Regions from separate parts of the Homo sapiens genome. Here region 1 is linked to region 2. A link means that fine-mapping ties the variant in region 2 to the expression of a gene that starts in the linked region. Tissue or cell type: monocytes. Region 2 holds a variant in brackets; the other region holds the start of a gene. All regions are shown on one strand. Distances are from middle to middle.

Region 1 (5,119 bases), 93 kb after region 2:
TATATAAGTATATATAAATATATAAGCATATATAAATATATATATAAAATATATATGTATATATAAATATATGTATAAATATATAAGTATATATAAATATATATAAATATAAGTATATATAAATTTATATAAATGTGTATATAAATATATATACATAAATATATATAAATATATACATAAATATATAAATATATATACATAAATATGTATAAATATACATAATTATAAATATATACACAAATATATAAATATATATAAACATATATAAATATATAAAATATATATAAATATATATAAACATATATAAATATATAAAATATATATAAATATATATAAACATATATAAATATATATAAACATAAATATATAAATATATAAACATATAAATATATATAAACATATATATAAATATATATAAATATATAAACATATATATAAATATATATAAACATATATATAAATATATATAAACATATATATAAATATATATAAACATATATAAACATATATAAATATATAAACATATATAAACATATAAATATATATAAACATATATAAATATATATAAACATATATATGAACATATATAAACATATATAAACATATAAACATAAACATATATAAACATATATAAACATATATAAATATATATAAATATATAAAAATAAATATATATATGCGGATGTGTGTATAAACTGTGTATATATATAACTATATATATAACCATATATATGTACTTATATATATCATCTACACATATATCATCTCAAGCTTAAGAATTCGTAATCAATACCCCTGATCACCCTCCACAAACCTGAGCTTCCTAGTGTTCATCCTCTCCATAAACATCCATCTGATGAGGTTCACATAGTAGCTCAAGCTTAAAACCTTGGTCCATCCATAAATCCTCTCTTTCTCACATACTCGTCCAACCCACCACAAACTCCTGTTGGTTTACCACTGAAATACACCCAGAATGTGACTCCCTTAAGATCCCATAGGTACCCAGTCCAAGCCACCACCTCTCACGATGGCTTTTAAACTCCTAAATCAGATGGTGTGTCACCTCCACTCAAAAAACTTCCCAAGCTGTCCCCTTCCACTTGGAGGGAAAGTCAAGGTCCTTGCCACTTGGTAAGGTCCACACGACTGCCCTGGCCCCTCCTCGCATCTCTGGGAACTCACCTCCTCTTTCTCTCTCTGTTCCCAAATTGGCTGCAGCCACACTGGGCTCCCTGCTGTTTCCCCTGCACCTGCTGTTTCCTCGACCTGGAATGTTCTGGTGCCTCACTCCTCCTCCTGCTTCCTTTCCATTCTCAAAACCCCTGTTCTCATCTTCTCCATGGCACTTACCATCACCTGCTCTGTGCACCTTGTTCATCTGTCTCTCCCCTCCAGAATGGAAGTTCACTAGATCACAGACTTGTCTCCACTTGTTGACAGCTGTAGCCCAATGCCCCGAACAGTGCAGGAGGAACCCAATGAACGTTTTTTAAAAATGAATGAATGAATGACGGAAGGAAGGAAACGGAAAGCATGCTTATGATGGAAAGTGAGGCCAAGCGCGTTGGCTCACTCCTGTAATCCCAGCACTTTGGGAGGCCGAGGCAGGAGGATCCATCGCTTGAGCCCAAGAATTCGAGACCAGCCTGGGTAACATGGTGAGACCCCATTTCTACAAAAAACATTTTTAAAAATTATCCGGGTGTGGTGGCGCGCGCATGTGGTCCCAGCTACTTGGGAGGATGAGGCGGGAGGACGGCTTGAGCCCAGGAGGTGGAGGCTGCAGTGAGCTATGATCACGCCATTGCACTCCAGCCTGGGTGGCACAGCGAGACACTGCCTCAAAAATTGAAAAAGAGAAAGTGGGAGCTGAAAGCCTCGGAGGGCAATCAGGGCGTCTTCAGAGAAAGACAATGAAACCAGAGCCACTGCAAGCCCTGACGGCCTGAAACCTAGGAGCCAGCTGAGTCCCTTCCACTCGCCCGCGCTGAGTTAACCCAGAGGCGGGTGCGGGTGTCGGAGCCCGCGCCGGGACGCACCGGCCGCACCGGCCGCACCAGCCTCCCCAGCACCGCGGACCCCAGGGCCGCCGCCCGGTCGCGCCGCGCCGGGCCTCCGCGCACCCACGTGGAGGGGGCGGAGCCCCGCGGGAGCCCGCCCCGGGGCTCTGGGTCTCCTGGCGCCCTGACCCGCCGGCCACCCCGCCGCCGCCCCACGCGCCTACCTGCGCCCACCTGCGCCCACGTCGCCCACCTAAGCGTGAACAGCTGCGTCGCGGACGCCGCCTTCCGGCAGGGACCCGCGCCCCAGGTAAGCGTTAGTCCCGCCTTCAGGAGTGCGGAGCCTCCCATTGGACGAGGTCTGCGTCCGTCTCTCCGCCGGCTAATGGCAAGCGGCGGCAGCACGGGGGGCGGTTCCAGGACCGGGCGCGGGCTACTGACGCCATCTCTAGAGGCCTAGAGTTGCTTGGAGAGGAGCTGGTTGCCAAGGCAACCCGCCCTGCCCAGAACAAGTGCAGATGACTAGGTTTGGGCCCCGCAGGGCTTGGGGGTCTGGGGTGCAAGCTGCCCCGGCCGGGCTGGCGTCCCGGGGTGGGGCCTCCGCCGAGGGTCCAGGGTATGGAGCTCGGCTCGGAGTCGAAATGGATGAGCTACGGCTATTGGGATCAACAGGGCTAGGACTTAAACTTCGTGCTGAATTTAAAAAATCAGGATAGGTGCTAAAAAATACACAGGGTGGGTAGTGTTATAATAATGCTTGTGTCCGGGAGCGGTGACTCACGCCTGTGATCCCAGCATTTTGGGAGGCCCAGGCGGGCGGATCGCTTGAGCTCAGGAGTTCGAGACCCGCCTGGCCAACATGACGAAACCCCGTAACCCCGTCTCTGCTAAAAATACAAAAATTAGCCAGGCGTGGTGGCAGGTGCCTGTAATCCCAGCTACTCGGGAGGCTGAGGCAGGAAAATCGTTTAAGCCCGGGAGGTGGAGGTTGCAGTGAGCCGAGATCGTGCCACTGCACTCCAGCCTGGGCGACAGAATGAGACTCTGTTTTAAAAAATAAAAAATAAATTAAAAAAATAAAAATTAGCCGGGTATGGTGGCACGTGCCTGTAGTTCCTGATACTCTGGACGCTGAGGTGGGAGGATCGCTGGAGCCTGGGAGATGGAGGCTGCAGTGAGCTATGATCAAGGCACTGCACTCCAGCCTGGGCAACAGAGCCAGACCCCGTCTAAAAAAAAAAAAGAAAAAAAAGCATGCTTTCAAGTCACCCAGTAAGTTAAGTGCTTGGCAGCCGTATCAAGTATGATGTACGTTGCCTCAGGAATCCAAAGGTGACAAGCAAAGAAGGTGCACTCTTCCTTACTGGTAGAAGATTGTATTTGGTTCCTTTTTCTGCATAACAAATTAACCCAACATTTAGCAGCCTAAAAGAACATTTATTTTTTCATGGTATCCGCGGTCAGGAAAGTGGGCGTGGCTAAGCTCTGTGCCTTTGCCTCAAGGGTTCACCAAGTTGTGGTCAAGGTGTCCCCCCAGGGTTGTGGTTTCATCGGAAAGCTTATCTGGAATGATCCACTCCCAAGCTCACACACACGGATATTGTAAGGACTCAGTCCTCCAAGGTCATTAGAGAAGGGCCTCAGCCTTGCTGGCTGCTGCCCAAAGGCCACCCTCAGTTCCTTGGTACATGGGCCTTACCACAAGGAAGCTCACAACACTGCAGCTGGCTTGCCTTAGACGGTGCAAGCACACACAAGAGGAGGCACACACAAGACGCACATCACAGTCTCCTTGCACCCTAATCTCAGAAGTGACTTCCCTAGGCTTTTGCCATATTCTGTTCATTAGAAGTCGGCCGGGTGCGGTGGCTCACACCTGTAATCCCAGCACTTTGGGAGGCTGAGGTGGATGGATCACTTGAAGTCAGGAGTTCAACACCAGCCTGGCCAACGTGGCAAAACTCCATCTCTACTAAAAATACAAAAATTAGCCAGGCATGGTGGCATGTACCTATAATCCCAGCTACTCAGGAGGCTGAGGCATCAGAACCTATTGAACCCGGGAGGCAGAGGTTGCAATGAGCTGAGACCGCGCCACTGCACTCCAGCCTGGGCGACAGAGCAAGACTCCAGCTCAAAAAAAAAAAAAAAAAAAAAGTGAATCATGGCCAGGTGCAGTGACTCAGGCCTGTAATCCCAGCTCTTTGGGAGGCTGAGTCAGGAGGATGGATGGACACCAGGAGTTCAAGACCAGCCTGGGCAAACAGTAAGACCTCATGTCTACAAAAATAAAAATAGAAAATTAGCTGGGTGTGGTGGTGCACGCATATAGTCCCAGCTACTTAGGAGGCTGAGGTGGAAGGATTGCTTGAGCCTGGAAGATGGAGGCTGCAGTGAACTATGATCACACCACTGCACTCCAGCCTGGGTGAAAAAAAAAAAGGAAAAAAGGAAAATAATTTTTTTTCATTTTTATTTTTGGAAATTGATATGGTTTGGCTGTGTCCCCACCCAAATCTCATCTTGAATTGTATCTCCCATAATTCCCATGCATTGTGGGAGGGACCTGGTGGGACATAATTGAATCATGGGGGCAGTTTCCCCCATACTGTTCTCTTGGTAGTGAGTAAGTCTCATGAGATCTGATGGTTTGATAAGGGGAAACCCCTTTTGCTTGGTTCTCATTTTCTCTCATCTGTTGCCATGTAAGATGTGCCTTTTGCCTTCCGCCAAGACTGAGAGGCCTCCCCAGCCATGTGGAACTGTGAGTCCATTCAACTTCTTTTTATTTATAAATTACCAGTCTCAGGTATGTCTGAATAGCAGTGTGAATACTGACTAATACAGAAATGCTGAAAGGACTTGGATGCAATGACATCCCAGTGGCACTGAGCACTCCTGGCACCCAGAACACTGCTCCTAAATACCATCCCCCATGAATACGGACCAGGGCTCCTGGGAGAAATGGCTGATCCCAGGGCTGTGGCAGGGAGAGCTCAAGATGGGCCTTGAATAGGTAAATCTGAACATCCTTTACAAGATAGCCTTGTAAGGCTCTCTGGGGTCATCTTCACACATTCTCAGGCGATACCCTTGTCAGGCTATCTAGGGTCATC
Region 2 (5,200 bases):
GCAGTGGGCAGAGGGCCTTCTTTTTAGTAATCCATAAAGTAATGGCATAGCTAACACTAATCAATCGTGTCTTAGGTTTGATGAAATACGGACGTATCTACCTCAAAACAATGGTTGAGGCTCAGAACAGAACCTGACACAGAATACGCCCTCAGGTATCGGTGTTGGCTGCTTGTGACTGACTTTGGCAAGTAAGATCAGTACCCGGCACCTCTGGGCACACAGGGCCCGGGCTGCATCCACTGTGCCAGGGACCTGGTGCCGGGCTGGGCAGCAAGTCAGTATCACATCAGCAGGCGTGGGCCGTGGTGAGCCTCTCCCTGCCCTCCCGCTGGAATAGAAAGCTGATCCCGACGTCCCACTCCGACCCACGGTCAGGAAGCCGTCCTGTCCAGGAAGGTGGCTGAGGTACATCCCTGAACACAGTAGGCCACAGCATCATGCAGCGGAGGGCCAGTGGCCGCTATTCTTCCTGCTGGTGTTCCACTCGGCCCGCAGCTCACAGCAAGTCTATGCGGAACTGTGCAACCCACATGCTTTGATTTTCAGAAATGTTCTTAGATCCTGAACCAGAATGTGCTGCAGGGGGGACTGTTTCACCTCAAAAATTACAGCAAAGTAAATGTCCTTGTTTCAACTTTTCCAATGTTTAACTTGTAACAATAGCTACAAAAGTAATCAGGCAGCAATGTGTTTCTTTAAACGGCTTTCCTGTGAGTGTTCCGTTTACAAAGAAAATCCTAAAACCAGGAAGTAATTGGTGACTTTGGAAACAGCAAGCAAACTTCGGTGAAGAAAGAGGGGCAGGTGTACCTGGAAGGACTAACTTGCAGCCACTCATTTCCTTTGGAGGGCGGTGGGGCCTGCACCCTGCAGATTAGGGTATATTCTGACTCAGCAAAATAGGCACCAGCGCCTGTAAAAAGAAACCGCGCTGGGCACTAAGAGAATTCTCAAAAACTCCCAGAGCCCTGGGTGTGTGTCCTCCCACAGGGAATCTCGCACGAGTTCGTCAAATGGCTGGTCTCAGGTTACACAACCAGCACTGCCTCCACCGCCACCGCCCCCCAACCTCACTGGTCCGAGCGGTTCCCCGCGGTCTAGCCGCGAGGGCGGGGCCGGGGGGCGGAGGCCAGGGCGGGACCAAGGCTGGGGGCGGGGCCAGGCATGGCTGCCGCTCGCCGGCCGGGGGCGGGGCCGACGGTCACGTGTGTACACAGGGCCCGGGCGGCGTGCGCGCCGTGAGCCCCGCCGCCTCCGCCAGCCCGAGCTGCCCGCCCGGCGGCGACTGCGCCGGCCGCCGCCCAGCAAGCCGGTGAGTGGGGCCCGGGAGCCTGGGTCGGGTCGGTGGGGCACACCCCAGTCTCCGCCTGGGGAGGGAGCCAGCCCCAAGCTGCTGTGGCTCCCACGGCGGGCGCTGCGCTTACTGGGACCCGGGTCCTCTGGCCGCTGCCCACTGCGGGGCTCCGTGCCCTTGCCAGGAGGGGACCGCTGTCCTCCGGCCGCGCTCCGAGCTGAGCCCCGGGGGCGGGCTTTCGGTCATTAACCTGGTGATGGCAGCTGAATCTGCTGCTGGCGTAGGCGGCACAGCGCCGCCACCGGCTCTCCCATGTCCGACAGGGCACCACTGATCCTGCTCTCCTGGGCCACTATGGTGACTGCTTTCGGCCCCTTCTGTGATTAGTATTTTAAAGTGAGTTTTGGATCTGTGTCTACATGGAGGTGTCGGATCTGCTGTCAGTTGTCTTGGACAGTTGGCAGGGCATGGGACGGCTCTTTCAAAGCTTCACTGGAAGGCAGTGCTCTCCAGCCGCCAAACCACCACTACCAGCAGCAGAAAACCCACTATTAAGTTAGTATTACAAACCTGGCAAGTCAGTTCTCTAAATTAGGCATAAGTCTATGAATCTTGATGTGACTGGTCACAGTGGCTTATCTCTGCATGCATGCTACGTGGTGGACCAGAGGATAATTCTGTATTCGTCGTCCACAGCCTTTGATCTCTTCCCTGCCCATGAAGATGTACTTGAGTCCTCCATTCCACTTTAAATAGCCAGCTCCTGTCCACACGGAACAGCACGACATCTTTTATCTTTTGCTACCTGCAGCACCTAGCAGAGGCCAGCATTCAATAACAGAGGGCCAAGAGGCTTGCTTTAAAGGCCTCTGCAAACTTGTATGAGTAAAATGGTTCTGACCATGTTCCCAGGCTCCTCACGCATAGTGGTGATGAGATAGTCTACCGTCCTAACTGGGGCACCGTTGAGAGTGAACGGAGGCACTGTTAATAATTAGAC[G/A]AAGTGCACACTCACAGTACCCATGACCTGCTGTGCAGCTCCTTCAAGAACTACTGTAAGGCCTGGCTCCCCAACCAGAACCCCTGTTGTCTTCCTCAATGAAGAAGGCCTCTGAAGACAAGTGACTTAAGAACATAGTTTATATGTATTGAATACTGTTGTGCCTTTTCACAGAGAAGAGGTCGGGGCCAGAGCAGCTCACTGCCCGACGCCACACACATCCGTGCTGGCGTCCACGTGTCATCCTGCCTCTCTAGCCAGCATGGACATATCCTGAGGATGGAGGACAGAGGAACACAGATTTAGGGCAGAATGTAAATGTGAAAGTTGACTTGGAGTCCCTGCAACTCATAAGCCCCAGTAGGCTGATGAAGAGAGAAGGGCAAAGGGCGCGCACCTCATGTGGGTCTTAGGTTAGGATGTAAAGGCTGATTATGTCTATCATACAATGAATCAATGGCATACTGCACAGATCGCTGCATGGGGAAATATGCTCGTGTAATTTACAGTCGGAAGAGGGACATGCTGCTCACTGGGGCAGGGAGAAGAAGGGGCTCCTCAGGGAGCTGCAGCTCTCACAGCCCCTAGGATGTCACCTGGAATCCTGAAAAAATAACTGCCGCCTGGCCTTTAATGACCCAACCACAGCGAGGTCTTGCCTTTGCAGAAGGAAATTATCACCCAGAGAACCCGGCCGACCGTGTCATGCACACGACGATCCCACGGTGCTGTTTTCTGTCAACAGTGTTTCCCAGCCATTCCCTCCTGCCTGCCAGCTCCTCTGCTCTCCAGGGCTTTCACTAACCCACCTGCCCAACTGACCAGCATTAGGCTGTCCAGTTAGCCCACATCTGTCCAGGGGTCTCAAAGGCTCAGGACCCCAAGACACCATCCAGGTAGCCAAGAGGACAGGGAACCCAGTCTGGAGAGTAGAATAACGTTTCGCTCCAATTTGAGATCCCAAAATGAGATGCTGCCCGGGACCAGAAGTCAGTTTCTTAGGAGCGTGCTGTCTACCCAGGAGCCTCCGTGTGCAAACAAAATACCCCCTTGAGCAGCAGAGGGACAAGGTGGAGGTGGGGCAGGTGTCTGTTCATCCCCACAGAGCCACACCCAGGTCCCTTCCTGCAAAGGCCAAGGACTTTCCCCATTTTAATTGGAACCAAAGCAAGCCTTGCAGACCACTGTCGCTACCACAGCTAGTGTGATGAGGAGAAATAACCTGCTGGCTCCTCCCTGGGAAACAACCAAGGTGGTGATAAGATCTGCGGCTCAGAGCACTTCCCTGCAGGTTAAGGCCACGCCTAGTAAACCGGGGCTCGACTGAGGAGCCCCGGCAGGTGCCAAGCCTGCCCAGAGTCTGCAGTAGAGACTCTCTGTTCTTGGCCATGTCTTTGAATTTCTGAGGAAGTCTTTTTTGTTTGTTTTTGTTTTTCCCTGGTCTGATGTACCTGGAGAGGGAATTAGCCTCACACCCAGTTAGGGAACAAAAAGCCAAGTAAACAAAAGAATGCTGTTCCACCTTCCTCCAGGGAACTGGCGCCCATAGCTGCAGGCACAGGTGCCCAGCCCGCTCACTGGCCCAGCAAGGTGCTTGGTCTCAGGCCCCCAGAGCCCGTCCTGGAGCCGCAAACATGCTCGCTATTATCCATGGAAAAAGAGAGGCATTCTCTTTGTTTATAGTCTAAGCCAAGTCACCTGATTCACTCTCACTACTCTGCAGTTTGGAATTGTAAAAAGCAAAAGGCTACAAAAATCAAAACCATCCACCTATGTAATGAACCATTTCTTATCACAGCCCAGGAAGGCACAGATAGGAATCAGTGTGCGTAAGCTCTCCACGTGGAAACCCTGTGAAAACAGCAGCCTTTCCTAAGCATCTGGCTCCTAGGAGCTGGATGTTAATTGTTGCTAAAGCCTGGGTTCATTACTACAAAAGAAAATAAACATTCCAGAGTCATTTTGAAAGCATTTTGATTGTTCTAGAATATTCACCCAAGGTTGAGCGTCTCATGGTGCATGGCAGGTTCGGCCAGGAGCTGGCCGTGGCCTTTCCACTCCTTTCCTGCCATCCTGAGGATGCAGTGCCTGGGGCCTCGCAGTTCTCTTTCCACTCAAATCTAAGGCTCTAAAGCTTCAACAACTGTCCGGGGACAATAAGAAGCGCTGAGTCCCCATCCTGCCTGCTCTCCTTTCTACTCAGTGGGGAAATTGGATCACTCGCCTTGGTGGATCACTCGCCTTGGGGAAAAGCCTTTTACGTCACTGAATACATCCCCTTCTACGGTTTTCATCCAACAGTCAGCCAGGCTGCTGCAGCACACATAAAAACTTCCCCTGCCTGCAAAGAGCTCCAAGTAGGTGGGAAAGAGATGGATGTGCGGACAGGCTTAACCCAGCAAAGACTGGCGGAGGGGTGTGGAGACAGTGGTCAGGGGTGGGTTCCCGGGGGTACTGATGCCCAAAATAAAATGTCAAGGACGAGCCAGTGTTTGCTGAGAGAACGAGGGGAAGCGAGAAAGGGTGTTCTAGGCAAGGGATCAACATCCGCAAAAGACAGTGTGAAAGAGAGCACCCGGAAACTTCGTGGGGATCACCGGGCGTGGGACTTGCCGGCCCCAGCTCTGACAGGGCCCTAAGCAACAGAGGAAAGAACTTCCCGACTAACAGGGACAGCAACATCAAAAGCGATGGCTTTTGTGAAACTAATTCAGCCACCTTGGAGCAGAGGATTCCTCTGCTGGTTTCTGTTTCTGCCAGCTCTGTGCAGTGCAGGCGCTATGATGCTCTCTCTCTCTCACACACACATACAGGGACCCGGGTGCCTCTCAGGTTGAGAGGGGTGGTCACCATCCCCACACTCAGGCCCCCTCTGTCTCCAGGCCTGCTGCTTCTGAACAGGC

What was found. PIP is the estimated chance that this variant, and not a neighbour inherited with it, causes the effect.
Region 1: CHLSN starts here. The variant in region 2 is fine-mapped to the expression of CHLSN in monocytes (TOPMed, PIP 0.99).

Annotation. Positions count from the first base shown.
Region 1 is chr7:1,135,962-1,141,080 of GRCh38, forward strand. It overlaps CHLSN (cholesin), which reads right to left and starts at 2,286. Exons shown (of 5, transcript NM_001318252.2): 1 at 1,354-2,286. RefSeq lists silencers at 1,846-1,895, 1,906-2,355, 2,556-2,695 and an enhancer at 2,416-2,515.
Region 2 is chr7:1,043,344-1,048,543 of GRCh38, forward strand. The region is part of intron 2 of CHLSN (cholesin); the gene reads right to left. It overlaps GPR146 (G protein-coupled receptor 146), which reads left to right and starts at 1,203. Exons shown (of 2, transcript NM_001303473.2): 1 at 1,203-1,315. RefSeq lists an enhancer at 322-877 and silencers at 983-1,472, 1,653-1,702. The variant G/A (reference allele first, on the strand shown) is at 2,298.